Regions from separate parts of the Homo sapiens genome. Here region 2 is linked to region 1. The links come from fine-mapping of genetic effects on gene expression. Tissue or cell type: tibial nerve. Region 1 holds a variant in brackets; the other region holds the start of a gene. All regions are shown on one strand. Distances are between the middles of the regions.

Evidence for each region. PIP is the estimated chance that this variant, and not a neighbour inherited with it, causes the effect.
Region 2: IGSF11 starts here. The variant in region 1 is fine-mapped to the expression of IGSF11 in tibial nerve (GTEx, PIP above 0.99).

What each region holds. Positions count from the first base shown.
Region 1 is chr3:118,886,403-118,894,593 of GRCh38, reverse strand. No RefSeq gene overlaps it. Among named protein-coding and RNA genes, the nearest start is that of IGSF11-AS1, 53 kb to the left of the region's middle. The variant A/G (reference allele first, on the strand shown) is at 4,203.
Region 2 is chr3:119,030,687-119,038,877 of GRCh38, reverse strand. It overlaps IGSF11 (immunoglobulin superfamily member 11), which reads left to right and starts at 4,032. Exons shown (of 7, transcript NM_001015887.3): 1 at 4,032-4,347. The coding sequence starts at 4,296. RefSeq lists a silencer at 3,752-4,111.

The DNA.
Region 1 (8,191 bases):
CTGGAACCGGAAGTCCTGAATCATTACTTTTTGAAATAATCATCAGTTAAACAAATCTCATAGTACCCTACTATTTGAAAGCTTTAAGGATTCTCAATTGTGTATTAAATAAAATTGTTACTCCTTGCCTTGACTTACTCAGTTTCTTCCACAAATAGTTCACTGCCTCTTTCATTCTTAACGTCTGCGCCTCCTCTACATGCAAACTTTGCTCCAGACCTGTTCACCTTCCCTTGAAGTAAATTTTTTTCTTTTTGTTTCCATTTTTCCCCCCGCTACAGCTTCCAGCTATAATCTCCACCCAAATCTTCTGGTACCACAAGTCCAATTCAAATACATTGTCCTCTATAAATTCTCTTTTTCAGTCTAATGAGAAGTGACTGTCCTCTCTAAAGAGGTATAGCGTTTACTACCTGTAATGGAATTTCCACAGTTTGTATTATATTTCTGTATTTGTGTACATGATTGATCCCTCCTGCTGGACTATAAAATGAGTTATTCCACAATCATTTTTGATCCTTAATTATGTGCTAAACATTGTTCTGGGTGTTGAAGGTAAAAACAGAGAAGTAACTGCAGCCATATTCTCAAAAAGTCCATATTGCAGGAGGGATCCACATCTGTGAGCAAGTAGTTGCAAGTCGTGTAAGTATATGAGTGGATGTTTATGCAAGTTCAAGCATATGGGACTACTACTTCTATATCTTGGTTGTGGTCACAACACTTAACACGTTGCTGTATTCAGAGAAAGTGCTTGAAGGATGCGCTAAATTCATGAAACTGAAAATATATGATTTGGTCTCTTAACTTCAGTGTTAAAAGTAGCAGTCAAATATTAGAATATTCCCAAAGCAAGGCCACATCAGAGTCATTTACTCATGTGGCAAATGATTGTGCCAGTTCCTTGGGGGCATTTGATGTTATATTAGAGATGCAGTATTGTTTGGGAAAGCTGTGGAGATAACATTCTTAATGCAGTGGTTTGGAAGAATCTTAAGTAATTATGAAGGGTTTTGTGTGAAAATATCTGTTATGCTTATTACATGGCAGTACATGAAAAAATGCATTTCAAGTACTAATTTATTTAATTTTATCACACTTCTACATGGACGCTATCATCACTCATATTTTACAAGTTCAGAAACTGAGGTGGTTAAACATTTTTCCCAGACTATTCAGTAATCTGTCAGTTGCTTTTCTCAGTAGATATTTCTGTCTGACTGAACCAATGTCTAAAAAGAAAGATCTGGGATCCTCGTCGTTTTGCCTTCAAATAGCCCTCTTTTGGACAAATCACTTGTGTTAAGTAAGATGATATTCAACTTCACAGAAAAAATGCTGAGACAATAAATGCAATTCAGAGAAAAGTTGACTTGTAAATTCTATGTGTATACAGCTATTTATAGCTTTTCCTCACAGCTTCCTTGTGAAGAAGGTATTATTTCCCTATTTTAGGTAAAGGCAAGGCACAAAATTCTGACTTAATCATAAGACATTAATGATAGAGACAAGTTTATTAAACAAAGCAATAAGTATAGTGCCTACTATGTATTTAACACAGTGAGGTCAGTTGATACCTGATTAATTTTAGGAGGTCAGATTAGAATAGATAATTTAGCTTATTATAACTTACATTGAAGCCATATTTCTCTATCATCCATCAGTTGCTCCCTCAGTTTATCAGATTTGCAGCAGTTTTGCATTTGAGGCTTGGACAAGATTGTATGCCTATATATATATATATATGTATGTGTGTGTGTATATATATATATATGAATGAGCTTCAGTTGTCCATTACATTGGACAAACTACAAAATTCTCTAAGGCTCAGTTTCATCTACAAAATAGAAACAATATAATAGTTATCTTTGAGATTGTGAGTACTAAATGAAATAATGCACATAAGATGAATATCATGGTGTCTGGTGATAGTAAACACTTGATATTTGCCATTATTCGTAGTAGTTCAGAAGCTTTAAATTTCTAGGCAATAGCTATGTCATTTACACCTACTCAGTATTTCAACTCTTTTTGCCAGAAGTACTATTTGAGTGCTACTGCATATAAAATAGCAATTTGGGACATTTTTTTGTTTAAGAGAAAGGAGAAGCCTCGGTAATTATTGTCTACCCAAATACTTTCTCCTATTTCCCTTTTCCTCACATTTTGTTCCAAAATAACACACTTATCTTCTGATTACTATCAATTTCAAATCGCTGAGGATAATTAAGAGGGTGGGAGAACATCAGCATTTATAGAGCACCTACTGTATGCTAGACAGCATACTGGACACTTTGTGTATATCCCATAGAATCCTCAACACTTTCAATTTTAGTACTGTATTATGCTAATTTTACAGATGAAGGAACAGGCTTTCATGGGTTAAGTACCTTGCTCAAGGTCATAAAGCTTGTAAGATGTAGAGCCAAGGGCATTGCTCATCTGTTGCCATATACTGTCCTTCCATTAAGATAGCCAATAAATAGTAAAGGTCTTGGTACTGCCTCAAATTTGGCCTGGCATAGACAAGAGTTCTTTATTCTTTCTAGTCATTCTTTGCCCATTAAAAAAATTATTTAATAAAATTACCATCTCTGACTTATAAGACTATTAGAATAATTTTTTCCATGCGGTCAAGCTTTTTGAGTTTTTCTCCTCTTAATTTCTGCACACTCGGGGGGGTCTCACAGCCGTTTAATTCTTTCTCATCACTTTCCTAGGGCATTTGCAATTTGTGTAAAACACTAGTTCCCTTACCACCTTCAGCTCTACAGTCAGAGCTATTGCTAGGGGAGGATGCGTTTGAGGAAATTCCCGTAGGCGAGAAGTTTTGAGGGGAACACAGAGGTCTTTGAAGACATGGTGAATTTGGAGGAAATTCTACGTAGAAGGATGCCTTTTGCTACCCTGGGCCTGCACTTGAGTCCCAGCTCCGTCACTTCCTACTGACTTGAGGCAAGCTGTTTAGCCTCTCTGGGGATATAACATGGAGATTATAATTGCTACATCATAGGTCTGAGGATACCATTAGATAATGTATATAAAATGGTATAGATAAATTGTAGCTGTTACTGGTTTACTTTTTAAGTCATGTATTTGAATTTTATAAGGAGAAAAACGGAAGTTCTACTGGAGAGATTAGAGAAGACCTGAGTCTCACATACAACCAGGTTGTAACTCTTTTCTTCACCTCCCCTCTCTCAGTCATCCAGAGATCAAGGTGTGTTCACCCCTCCAACTTCACAGTGCTGATCCTGTATTATGATGTAAGTAGAGGCGAGGCTGTGATTTCTGAGCCCCAATCCCTTTAGTATAGAGATCACAACCTGAAATGCCTGTGAAGGTAAAGTAAATGAGAGAACTGGGCCAGATGGGGAGCATGGTGACTTGGAGATTTATGCCCTGCCTAAAGAGGTTAGCAGCTACTCAGCTCCCACCAAGAGTGGTCAGTAGGACTTGGGTCCAGGATGGCCAGGTCTCTTGAATCTTCAAGAGAAGCCAGAAATGCTTATTTGTATCTCTCTTGGATTGTATATGTCGGCAATGAATTTTTTTAAGTTAAATCCTGCTTAATTATACATTCCTGTGGGTCTGTGTGGCCTGTGGTCCAGTATTTACAATATCTGTTATTAAGCAGACTTGTTTCCAGCAGCTTCATGGGTGGATCCAGCTTGGAGCTCTCCTCTTCTGAATAGTATCGAGTAACAGGAAACTATGTGTCAGGTGCTGCTCTAAGCATTTTACATCTATTAAATCATTTTAATCCTCACAACCACTGTATGAGATAGGTACAAACACTATCCCATTTTGCAGATAATAACACCGAGGTACAAGTGATAAGTAACTAGCCTAAGTTTATATGGGAAGACCTGGGACCTGGATTCAAATATAGGCAACCTGGCTCCTAATTGCTATATAGTATTTTCTAATGTTTGTGCTTTCAGAAGAAAAAGAAACGGTGCATTTCTGGTAATTTTAAATTTTCAAGGAATATTTCAATGATTTAGATCAGTACACTGCTCTCCCTAGTTCTTGAAACAATCCGGGCTGACATTTTGGAAAGGAGGGGAAAAGGGCAATTCTCTCATCAGGCTTCTTGGGCAAAGCTCTTCTGAAGTAAATGGGGCTGAAAGCCCCCATTGTGTAAACTCAGCCCACACCTCCCCACAGCGAGAAGTCATAAGCAAGTCTTGAGTCTCCAC[A/G]TAACTCTAGAGTTTTATAGAGGAAACTCTTCATTAACAATGCATTGATTTGTGACCACACTTCTGTAAAAAGAACAGCTTTCATAGAGTCCTCTGCAGCTTGCTTGCTTGCTTTTTTTTTTGAAGTGTAGTGTTTTTGCTTACTTGCAAAGCACTAAAGAGGAGTTAACTTTTAGATGGGTACAAGGAATCTTCAGATGTGTTGCTGCTAGTACTTTTTTTCCCCCATTGAGTATAAGGATGAAAAAAAATATTACATTTCAGAGAAGATTATCAGGAAAGAGAGTTTCTTCTCAATTGATGGAACACAGCAGAAAGGGGAAAATCCTTCATCCAGTTCTGACTTTATTCCATAGGATTAAAAAAAAAAAATCTTGTCTGAGAAAAAGTGAAATCTTGTCATTTTAGTCTTGCACTAGAAAACTTATAAATATGTTTGAGAGGAAAACAGAGCTGGGTAGAAATTTTTGCTCAGGCAAGGGGAGGGCTTGGGCTTCAGTCACTCCCTTCCAGGAAAAGGAAGTGATTTTTTGAGAGCCTACCATGTGCCAGACACAATCCATCCATTATCTTATTTTTTCTCACTCCTTGAGGTAAGTATTACTTTCCCTGAAGTGTTGGAAAGGCAGTCATTCTTAATTCCTTTCCACCTCTATGTCTCCTTTCTTTGCCCCCAGACACTAATTATGACTTCAGAAAGAAGAACTACTTAGAGGCAACAAGTTATTGGAAAGTGTGGAGGATGGAGGAAGGGAAGGCGGGGGATTTTTCCTGTGATTCTTTTAGCACAGAAAATATCTGTTTTTATTTTACCTGTGCATTTAGGAGGGATGCAGGAGATCATGGGAGTTTCAACCCCATGATCCAACCCACGCTTTCACACCATCCCTGCCTCTATAGTAAGTCTGGACTGTGTACTTGACATTTCAATATCCTTCCTCTCCTCTGTATTCCACCTGCATTTTTTCTAGCCTGTGTTTTTGCCCTTATTCACTTGGGCCACCATGATGGTCTCTTTAGTTGGATCTCTTGCTTTCAATCTTGTATACCTCCAATCCATTCTCCACACTGTAGCTGATTGAAACTGTGATACTACACCTCTGCTTATTGCATTCCTTAAGTGGCCCCTCACTGCCTACACAAAGAGGTTGAGTAAAAAAATAAAACATGGCAAATCTCACCAAGGGCCAACTAATTAGTGTTACTGGGGGTGAGCTAGGCACCTGCCGTCCTTAAAGCTGCACAGGCTATGTGTATTGTAAGAATCAGTGGCTTAGAGTGTCCAGAGTCCTTGGCATTGCACACAAGGCCCTCCGTGATTCTGCCTGCACTCCATTCTCCAGATTTCACTTTTCAGCCCCATCCCCACCTTATCTTGTGCTCCAATCATGGCAGTATGCCTGCTAAGCCCTGAATTTACCACGAAGATTCACCCTTCTCTGTGCTCCTTCTTTCTACCTGGATTGCTCTTCGTTTCTTCCTTGACTTCCTGGTGGAAACCTATGTTTATTTAGTCTCAGGTCAGGCATTATCTCCCAATAGAAATGAGCACTCTCTTTCTCGTTTTTGGCCCCCACTGTACATCATCCATCCATCATCTGAAACACTAGTGCATTTATTTGTTTAAATGTCTGCCTTCATGTGATAGATTTGGAACACCTTCACATTTTTTAGTTCTGAGCACATAATATTTATGGCCAATGGTGTTTATTGAATAAAATGAATACTTTTATTTTTCTTTAAATGAGACAGGGTCTCACTTTGTCACCCAGGCTGGAGTGCAGTGGTGCGTTCTTGGCTTACTGCAGCCTTGATCTCCGAGGCTCAAGCGATCCTCCCACTTCAGCTCCCCAAGTAGCTGGGACTACAGGCGTGTGCCACTGTGCCCGGCTAATTTTTGTATTTTTTGTAGAGGTGGGGTTTTGCCATGTTGCCCAGGATGGTCTCAAATTCCTGGACTTAAGTGATCTGCCTGCCCCGGCCTCCCAAAGTGCTGGGTTTACAGGCATGAGCCACTGTGCCCAGCCAAGTAAAATGAATACATTTTACAGTTAATCCAAGAGCACACAGGACTCCAGGACTGTCTGAATGCTATGCTCTTCTGTTATGCTCCCTGCAAGAAACTGCGACATAGAAATATTAGGCAAATTGTTGACCACAGTGGAGTACCCTCTGTCTTAGCAATGGCCCCAGAGAACTATCCCAATGCATATATACTTCAAAAAATATTAAAATCACGCTGTGTAGACAGTTGGTACCTCGCTGGTTGTTTTTGTTTTTGTTTTTGAGATGGAGTCTCACTCTGTCACCCGGGCTGGAGTGCAGTGGTGCGATCTTGGCTCACTGCAGCCTCTGCCTCCGGGGTTCAAGCGATTCTCTTGCCTCGGCCTCCCCAGTAGCTGGGATTACAGGCACCTGCCACTATGCTTAGCTAATTTTTTGTATTTTTAGTAGAGACTGGGTTTCACCATGCTGGCCAGGCTGGTCTTGAACTCCTGACCTCGTGATGCACCCACCTCTGCCTCCCAAAGTGCTGAGATTACAGGCGTGAGCCACTTGCCTAACCAGTACCTTGCTTTCTATAACTATTATATTCTTGGGCGATTATTATTTTAAGAAATATTTATGTAACTAAGTATTATTCCATTATACTACGATCATATTTTAAATCTACTGTTTTCCAAACAGTGGCTCACAACATATTAATTGGTAGGTTTAGTGGGTTGTAATCAACATTTTAAAAAATGAAATTGTATGCATTATATGTAGTTAACAATATGTATTGTCTCATGAAGATTTTACTTCAGATCTCTCCACACAGACACACACACATAAATGTATGTTTACTGTGTGGATATAAATGAATAGTGTAATTGGATTATAATACACCTTTTATTTCTTATTGAGGATCATGGTCAAAAAAGTTTGAAAGTTGCTGTTTTAAACATTCTTCAACAGGAGGAAATTTGGGTCATTGTATTTTTTACTATTATAAATAACACTGTAATGGATTTCCCAGGGGATAATTTCTTAAGTTTGTTTCCTTAGAAAGGATAGATAGGGAAAATATTTGGGCCAGAGAATATGAGCTTTTAGTCTCCTGATATCTATTGCCAAATTATTTTCTAGAAAGATTATAGCAAGTTATACTACCAGCAACATCATATGTGCTCAGGTGAATTTTTTAGTATTGGGCTCTGACTAGTGAACATTCTCAGGCATTACAGGAGGGAGCAATGCACATTCCAGGGCAGAGAAATCAGAATAATCAAGGAACTGAGATGGGGTTGTTGAAAGTGTTTATTAACTTTGATTATAGCAGGTAGTGTTGTTCATGGATAGTTGGTGAAAGAGAGCAGTAATATAGTCAAATAGTTTAGGGCCGGAGATCAGGGGTTTTACATGCACTGCTAAGTTTTTGTCCTTTATTCTTGGGAACTGAAGCACCATAAGGTTTGAAAGCAGAAAGTGAAGTGATGACGTCAGCCCTATATTACAGAATGAGAAAGTGGAGGAGAAACTAAGTTTCATAAGCTAGCTGGGTGATTATTTCAATAATTCAGGCAAGAAATGCATGTGCCTGGGAACCCAGTCTTGCTTTCCAATGGAGAAATCAGATGACAAACTGCCCAGTATACTCCATGAGACTCTAGAGTGCTCTCTAGCCTCTAGCCCCAACGCAGTGGTTGAAATCCTCTGATGGCCTGGGTTTGGTGATATTTCTGGAGCAATTTGATGATGGGATGGGACACAATCCAAGTATAGGGCCATTGAAAAACACACGTAAAAAATCACAGTATATTCTGCTCAAAACTCAGCCATTTCTGATGGACAAAACTTGGAAACTATTAACTTGACTGAGGGGTGAGAGTCGGGGCAGGAAATCCATTTGTGGATTGAAGATTCTGATTTGGATGACTGTGAATGACTTTAATATTTGAATATGGCATTTATGAATACTGGGGAAATAACAAGGGCTCAGGGAAAAT
Region 2 (8,191 bases), 140 kb before region 1:
TTGCTGGAAGTGAAAGTCTGAACTGCACTTTAAATTAAACTTCTATGGAAAACACCTCAGAATTGGAAAATACTGAGGTAACTTCCTATACCCCAATATAAAATCAAGTGAATTAATCTGAAGCATATTACCTTTAATGAAAACTGGTAAAGAAACTTGGCAGAATATTTGAAAATTATATTCCTTATAAAAATGAAAATACAAAAATTTTTCAGGTGACATACAAAATGCTACTTATGCTATTGCCTTTTTCAAGTCCTAAAAAAACCTAGTGGTATTATTTTAAATTTGCTATTAGAATTAATTCAGTAGCATTTCGTTACAATGTTCCCTGCTCAGAGAGTAACTTTACCCAAAAATAAATTAGGGCTTCAAGAAAAAGAGCTAACTTTTCCCAAAATGGATGAAGATGGGAAACTTTGACAATATTCACAACAGTGATAGGGATTGGGCTATGGGGAGGAGGATGGATATTGCTGTTTAGCTCCTTGTAAATCCTATCTAGGAATGGTTGACAGAGGAGTGGGAAGAAACAGATGTAAGAAAGACAACAAGATATCAATATATCTACGTTATGAGTTAATCCAAAATTTGAGAGTGTTGTTTTAAAATATTAAGTGGTCTATTTATGTCAACATACAATAAACACTTGTTGGTTTACTTTCTTTCTTACTGTAATGATGCCACTATTTTGTTTCCCATTCCTTTATTGTCATTTTAGAGCTTTTCTTGACATTTTGCAAAGGGGGAGGGGGAGGGAGAAAAATTCCTCTAAAATTTTACTTCTAAAAGGACCAAACTGTGCTCTAGACTATATGCTGGCTCTAAGCAGCTGGGTTAAAATATATACAGAATGAGTTACTGGCTCAAGCAAGGATCAAACAGGTTTTTCCTAACTTTAAGAATAATGTTCTTATAAAACACTCCATAGACAAATACAGACCAAAACTTAAATGCAATTAACCTTTAATTTATATATATGAATGAAGAGGGATCTGAGGTATTAAAAACTTAAAATAGCTAATTCAAAAATAATTTATACTTGGCATTGGAAATCCTTATAATTCCCTACATCATTTTTCTTTCTTAATTATGTTCCTCCTAAGCTAATAATAAAGTTAATTTTCCATTCTTGAATGCAGATTAACTGATTGTGGAAAGAAGTGGTCCAGCATTTTGATGGGTTGAGGAGAGCCTGCCTAGGATTAAAATGTGAACTTTAGCAGTTGACTTATTTTCACGTCATCAATGTTTTTGAGTCAAAGGTGCCATATAGCAGAGTCTTCTACCAGGATTCCTCATCCTGATCATTCCCCTCTCCACTTCTTTCTTGGTAAGGTAGACCAACTATAACTCTCTCAGAGATGAGGGTGGGGCCAATCTCATCCAAATTTTATAGCTTCTCAGGTGGTGTCTGGGTGTGGTAGTGATCATGGTGGGGCAGAGGTGGGATAAATCTTTAGGAGGCAAGTACAGTGTTACCCTCAGATAGCTTTAAGACACAGTATCCTCCTGTGTGAAGACAGGGTCATCATACATGCCTTACCCATCCCCCCTGGGTTTGCTGTGAAGATTAAATCAGATAATAGGTGTGAAAGCACTTTGAAATTTGTAAAGTGTTACACAAATATAACATATTGTCTCTGTCTTTAGTACTCAGAATACTTAAGGGATTTAAAGAAATCCTTCTGTGGTCGTAAAGCAGATTAGGATAAAAGAGCTGGTGAAACTCATCATTACTAATAAAAAATTACTCAAAGTATATGTCAATGGTATTATCTCTATGAATTTTTTTAAAAACCACACTTTTTGTTTCCTGGGAGAGTGTCCTTGGAAGCCTCTGTGTACAGCACTTGGAGCTTCTAGTACTCCTGATCTGCTTTCTTCTGGTCCACCATCTACCATCTGCCCTCATGCTTCTCAGCAGCTGGATTGCCTCCTGAAATCTGATCATCCTCACTCTCCCTTCAGAAGCCACACTTTTTTTTTTCTATTGAAAGGGCTCCTTTACTGAACTGTGAGCATTGTCCTCTTAATGACTCAGTAGCTCTTGCCTGGCAAGGCAGAAGTATCCTTAGGTGACAAAGAGGCAGAACTCTATCTGCTTATTTATGATAGCACAGATATAGCCCATATGCAATTGGAACTTATTTGGGGTCAGGGGTCATTTTTTTTTTTTTGGTTTAACCTTAAACCTGGTGCCTTACAAAGTGTAGGTACTTGGTAAATAGTTGTTAAATTGATGCGATAAATATATCAGATAACTTGCTTTATCAGAGCTTTAAGCTCAGATTATTAGGTTATTTAAAGGATATTTATTTAAAGGATAAATATTCTGCCTCTATATTTATATCTGGGATTATGGTGACATGAAGAGTTGCTCTCAGTAGCTCCTATCACTTGACCGCTTCCTTGTTTTTCTTCTTATATTGCTTACTCTTATACCCTGCTTAGGACTGGATTAGACTGCAGGAATATGTACAAGAGAGGGTGAGGGATTGAATTGGATGGAAAAAAGAAACTCTAGTCCTTACCCTGGAGTTTAAAAGAATGAGAATGAGCCTCGTGATATCATAGTTGGAAATTTAAATTTGTTATTAATATGAAAAACTCTACTGTCATATCATTTATTTCTTGCCATTAGAGATCTGGTAGGGAATTCTAGCAAGTTGGAAGTAGTGAGCAAAGTTGAGGCATCTCTACTTCATAATCAAAATTTATCCTTTCAGGATATTCTTGTTAAAAGTTATTAACATTTCTTAACATGTTTCATTTTTTTAACCTTAAAAATATAATATCCACATTTTCAAAAAGAAGTACATCCATAACTCCACCATCTTGATATTTTAATTTTACATATATCTTCCAATCCTTGTCCAAATGTATGTTTAAAAAATATTTTACATATTTTTCTTCTGTGCATATTATTTTTGTTTCTGAGTTTCCCTGGGAGGATTGTATTTGCCAGATGAGGGCTCAATTTCTGAATGGCTCCGAGAACCCTAATTTATGCTGCTGTAGAAACTGACCAAAATGGGTTGGCATCCCCTGGGCAGGTATGTCCTCAAATTTAGAAGGCTCAGTTTGGAGGCTGAAGCAGGAAGTGACTATGAGCTGTACAATAAAGAGCAGAGCCCAGTATAAGAGAATAAAGATAGGTTTTACAAGAAAAGATGTAGGTAGATATTTAAGTAAAACAATTTCAGATGCTAGGAAAGTCTTTCTCCCCACCCAACCCAAACAAACAAGAAGCAAAAACAAAAAACCCAACTAAACAACGATTACAATAAATGTACATACCCCACTAGTTAACATGTATACTTAAGGTCAGTTTAAGAAAGCACTAACGTTTAAGCTGGAAAACTTAAAATATTAGAAGTTGACATAAGGTTTACAAAAGGGGCAAGAGAAGATGGCAGTCTCTCTGATAGGAATGGGGAGTTAGGGGCATGGTCCAGCCTCTATCCACTTTTCAAGGAAGAAAGGTGAAAAGGCATCCAGGAAACAGCGCAAAACCAAAACACTGTAAAATTAGGAATTCCTAATTCTGCCAGAGTCAGGTTCTTTCAGATTATTTAGGTTTTATAAGAGAGGACTGAAAGTGAAAAAGCCAAATATAAATTATCCGAAAACTGCAACAGGAAAGACTCTTGCAGGCTCAGAGGAAGGCTGTGGAAAAGTCATTGCTAGAGCTCTCCAGGATGCATCAGGCCGACACCACCTGTTTGCGGAGGGGTTTAGACCAAGGGAGGGGCCCTAACTCCGGCGAGGAGGGCGCCCACCCCTCGGTTCCCGGAGCTGGTGGAGGCGTGCGGGGGAGCGGGCGGCGCGGTGCACAGGTGGCGGGGGCCGCGCCAGCTGCGCGCCGCGCTCTGCTCCGCGGGTGGGCCGCCAGGCGTCGCGCTGGAGCCGCGGTTGCCCTGGAGACCAAGCGGGGCGAGTGGGCGGCGCGGCGAGGAGCCGAGCTGCGGCTGGAGTAGCGGGGCGTGAGTTGGGGGGAGTGGCTCCCCGGACTGCGCGAGGGGTCGGCTAGTCCTGGGGCAGGGCTGGGTGGCACGGCTGGCGAGCCCGGAACGCCTCTGGTCACAGCTCAGCGTCCGCGGAGCCGGGCGGCGCTGCAGCTGCACTTGGCTCGTCTGTGGGTCTGACAGTCCCAGCTCTGCGCGGGGAACAGCGGCCCGGCGCTGGGTGTGGGAGGACCAGGCTGCCCCAAGAGCGCGGAGACTCACGCCCGCTCCTCTCCTGTTGCGACCGGGAGCCGGGTAGGAGGCAGGCGCGCTCCCTGCGGCCCCGGGATGACTTCTCAGCGTTCCCCTCTGGCGCCTTTGCTGCTCCTCTCTCTGCACGGTGAGTAGCTCCAGCCCTTTCTTCCCGGTGGGGCCAGGCCGGGTCGGCGGGCCCGGGGCGAAGCTGTTTGGGGACGGCAAAGAGCCTCCTTGCTTTGCCGAGGGTCGGGAGTCCAACTTTCTCAGGGGCGGCGTTCGTTGCTGCGGCCGAGGCTCGCGCGCACCTGCAGCGGCTGCTTCTGCCGCCCGCGCAGCCCAGGTGTTCCTTGTCAGAGAGGTAACTAAACTCGTCCGGCTACCTCCGGTCCCAGGCCGGGCCCTGACTCTCACCTCGCTGCGCTCTGCGGAATGCAGGATCCTTTTTAGATAACGAACTCCCTTACTCACTGGTCCAGTTAGAAACTGTATTTAGAACCAGTTGTCTTTACTAGGCGGCCCTAGGAAAACTAGAAGTGCTTTTAAAATCATTTGGAAAACTTTATAGCTTTAACGTAACCTTTTAGAAGCCTATACACGTTTTGGCCGAAAATGATCTTTATTTTAAAACTAATTGTATACTGTGCTATACTACAATCGAAAACAAGAATTTATTTACACTCTAGCTTCATCTCCAAAGGACTTAAGTTGGCTCTCAACAATACATAGAATATAACAATATTAGAACAAAATAAATAAATGTCTTTAAATTTCTTGTTAACGGTTTTTAAAACATCTGTTTATAAATTTAGCTTTTAATCTCTGCTTAATCTTTCTTACATTTTCGGTGAATAGCCATCATATTAATTTAGATCCTGATTTTCATCCTATGCAGTGCTGTTTGTTTTTGTGTGTGCATTCTCCTGTGGAATCCAGTTTTCTGTCCCATTTATTGCTGAGATTTACTGAGATTTTTTTTCTGAAGGATGTTATTTAAAAAGCGGGTTCAGTGATTTTGGAACTTTGTGGTTAACCCTGTTTTTTTTCTGGAGACACCAGCATGTTTCCAGTCATTTCATGGCCTTATTCGAACTGATTTTGAAGTAACCTAATACTAGCCAACTTAACTTGTGCAGATTCATTGAATAGGGGAGAAGAGAATACGAAAACTTTTTGTATGTCTTCTCCGTAGAAACTAATGAAGCTGTTATCATCAAAATTAACTTTTCTAGAGTTCAGTAGGTATATTTTTAGTGATGATGTGCACACAATAACATCAATATGTCCATGTTATGAACTTGTGCTTCCAAGTATCTTGTACTGTTACTAGTTTGAGATGGCCAGTTTTTCTCTCTGTCCTACTACTTTTAAGTGTGAAATAAGAGAGTAAATCGGCTTTTTATGCAATCCTTGGACACAGCTCTAAATATTACCAATATTACAAGAACAGCTCAAATTTTTGGTAGAACATTCTATTATTAAAGTTGTATATTATAATAAATGCTCCTCTTTTTGTAAATAGCATTTGTGTATAGTTTGTTTTTGAATTATTAGGCAGTACTTTAAAAGAGTTGATACAATTCGCAGACTCAGCCTTGCAAGGTCATCTGATTTGTTCTTTTTTCTTCAGCAAAACTATTCCCAAGCCATAGAAAAATGTTTTTAAAGACTTCCAAGGACTTCTCAGTTTTGGCAATAACCTGTTATGTAGAGGCATTTTCCACTTTCAAAAACAGTGTTCATTGTTCAACAGATATTTACAGAGCCATCACTCTGTGCTTTTGAGTATCTGGTGGGGAAAGGTGGTGGTGGAATACAAAGACGCGTGTGAGTGTCTGCAGCCCGTAAGGAGTTTGCATTTTTAAAACAGGCTGTAAGCATGCACAAATAATTTATGGTACAGGGAATGTATGATGAGTTCTATTTGTTAATGTAAGTATCAAGTAAGACTTCTTGGAAAAGTTTACTTTTTATCTGGACATTGAATGAATAGGGTATGAATTGGCTCAGATGGGAGTGGATGGGCTTTCTTAACCAAAGGAACAGCCTGAAGGAAGGATGTAAAGTGGAACAGGCAGGGGTATACTCTTGAAAGGCCAAGCTGCTAGAGCAGGAGATGTGTGCAAGGGAGAAAGAGCCAAAAAGTAGTTGGGGGCAAGATAGTAGAGAATCTTGAATGCTGCGTTTGGGCTTTATTCGGCTGGCCATGGAAAAAGTACTGATGTTCAGTTTCCTTACTGTGGGGCGGGGAAGAGGATGAACAGTTAGCACGCCTGTTTGTGCTAGCATACCTGTCTCCAGGAGAATACCTTGCCCTAACCGAATTTAATTCTTGAACTAGTCAAGGGCAAACTTGGTTTGAATGAATTATGGCTCATCCCCAGAATTTTCAATGTGGAATAGCAGGAGGGGTGTATATCTGAACAAAGCTGGTTCCATTACAAAGGGGTAAAGGGAAATGGATGCTAGGTAAATAACCAATAGCAGTGGCCACTACAATGAAATGATACACCAAAGGTAGAAATAGAGGGTCTTTTCAATAAATGAAAGAAAATCGATGTTAATAAATTTCTGTTTCTATTTCTGTTTATTCTGTTTTCTTATTGTTATTTTGTTTTTATTTGTGAAGTAACTTCAAAGGGAATTTGAATTGAAAAGCTGACTTCTATATAGTTCTTCTAATGGGTTAGATATAACTAAAGTGTTTCTCATACTTGTGATTCCTTGAAATAGCAGATAACTTTTCAGAATTTGAGAAAATGTATAAAAAGAAAGAAATGACCACATAAAATGCAATGAAAATGAAAAAAGTCATGAACCTTTTCAGTGTTACCATTATTAAAAATTTATTGTAAAATCCAATTTATCAGCTCTAAATTTCATACTGTAATTGTTTTAGAAGGATTCACCTGTTAGTAAAAATCTGTAGTTTGACCTACATGAAAGATGACAGCTACGGGATGAAAATTTCAGAGATACTAAGCCTAATACACATATATATTCAACATGGACTATTCAGGAAGCAATTTAAATATTAAATTACCAAGCACTTAAAAAGCGTTATGCTTAGAACTGTTGTCAGACACAAGGTAATGATGCAAGGGGTAAAAGTACTTGTTTTGGCTTCCCCTCCCCAGGTGACAGTATGTGGCAGATTTTGAAATGTGTTTTCACACTTTCATAGTGGAGAGATTTATAATGAAAATTCTCATTTGAGTCTTCATACTTATGCCATGTGATTTAGTGTCAAACAAGGTGATGTGCTGGTGCAAAAGATTCTTTAGTTGCAGTGAGTAATACAAAGCAAGGGACAGGCAGTACTTACTGAGTTGGGAGAAAGTTCAGAAAATTCTGGCCTTCCCACTAAAACTTTTCATCCATAACTACTTAGTTAGTTTGTTTATTTATTTATTTATTTGAGATGGAGTCTGGCTTTTGTTGTCCAGGCTGGAGTGCAGTGGCGCCATCTTGGCTCACTGCAATCCCCGACTCCTGGGTTCTAGCAGTTCTCCTGCCTCAGCCTCCCGAGTAGCCAGGATTACAGGCGCATACCACCACACTTGGCTAATTTTTGTATTTTTAGTAGAGACGGGGTTTCACCACGTTGGCCAGGCTGGTCTCAAACTCCTGACCTCAAGTGATTTGCTCACCCCAGTCTCCCAAAGTGCTGGGATTACAGGCCTGAGCCACCGTGCCTGGCCCCATAACTAGTTTATTTAGAATAGGGATTCCACATCTATTGTTATCTAGACTAATGACAATTTTTTATACTCTCTCAACACTGAATTATTTTAGGCAGTTTGGGGAGGGTTTGCTGAATTTCTGTTTTCTAATTTACTTCAAGTGAACACAGTCATCTCAACTTTCTTTGTTTGGTGAGGGCTAGCTGGCACTAACACATCTCATCCCTGCATTTTGAAAACTGCCCCCACACCATCTGGAGGATCTGAAATCTTCTCTTGACCATACTTTGTGAGCAACTGGCTTAA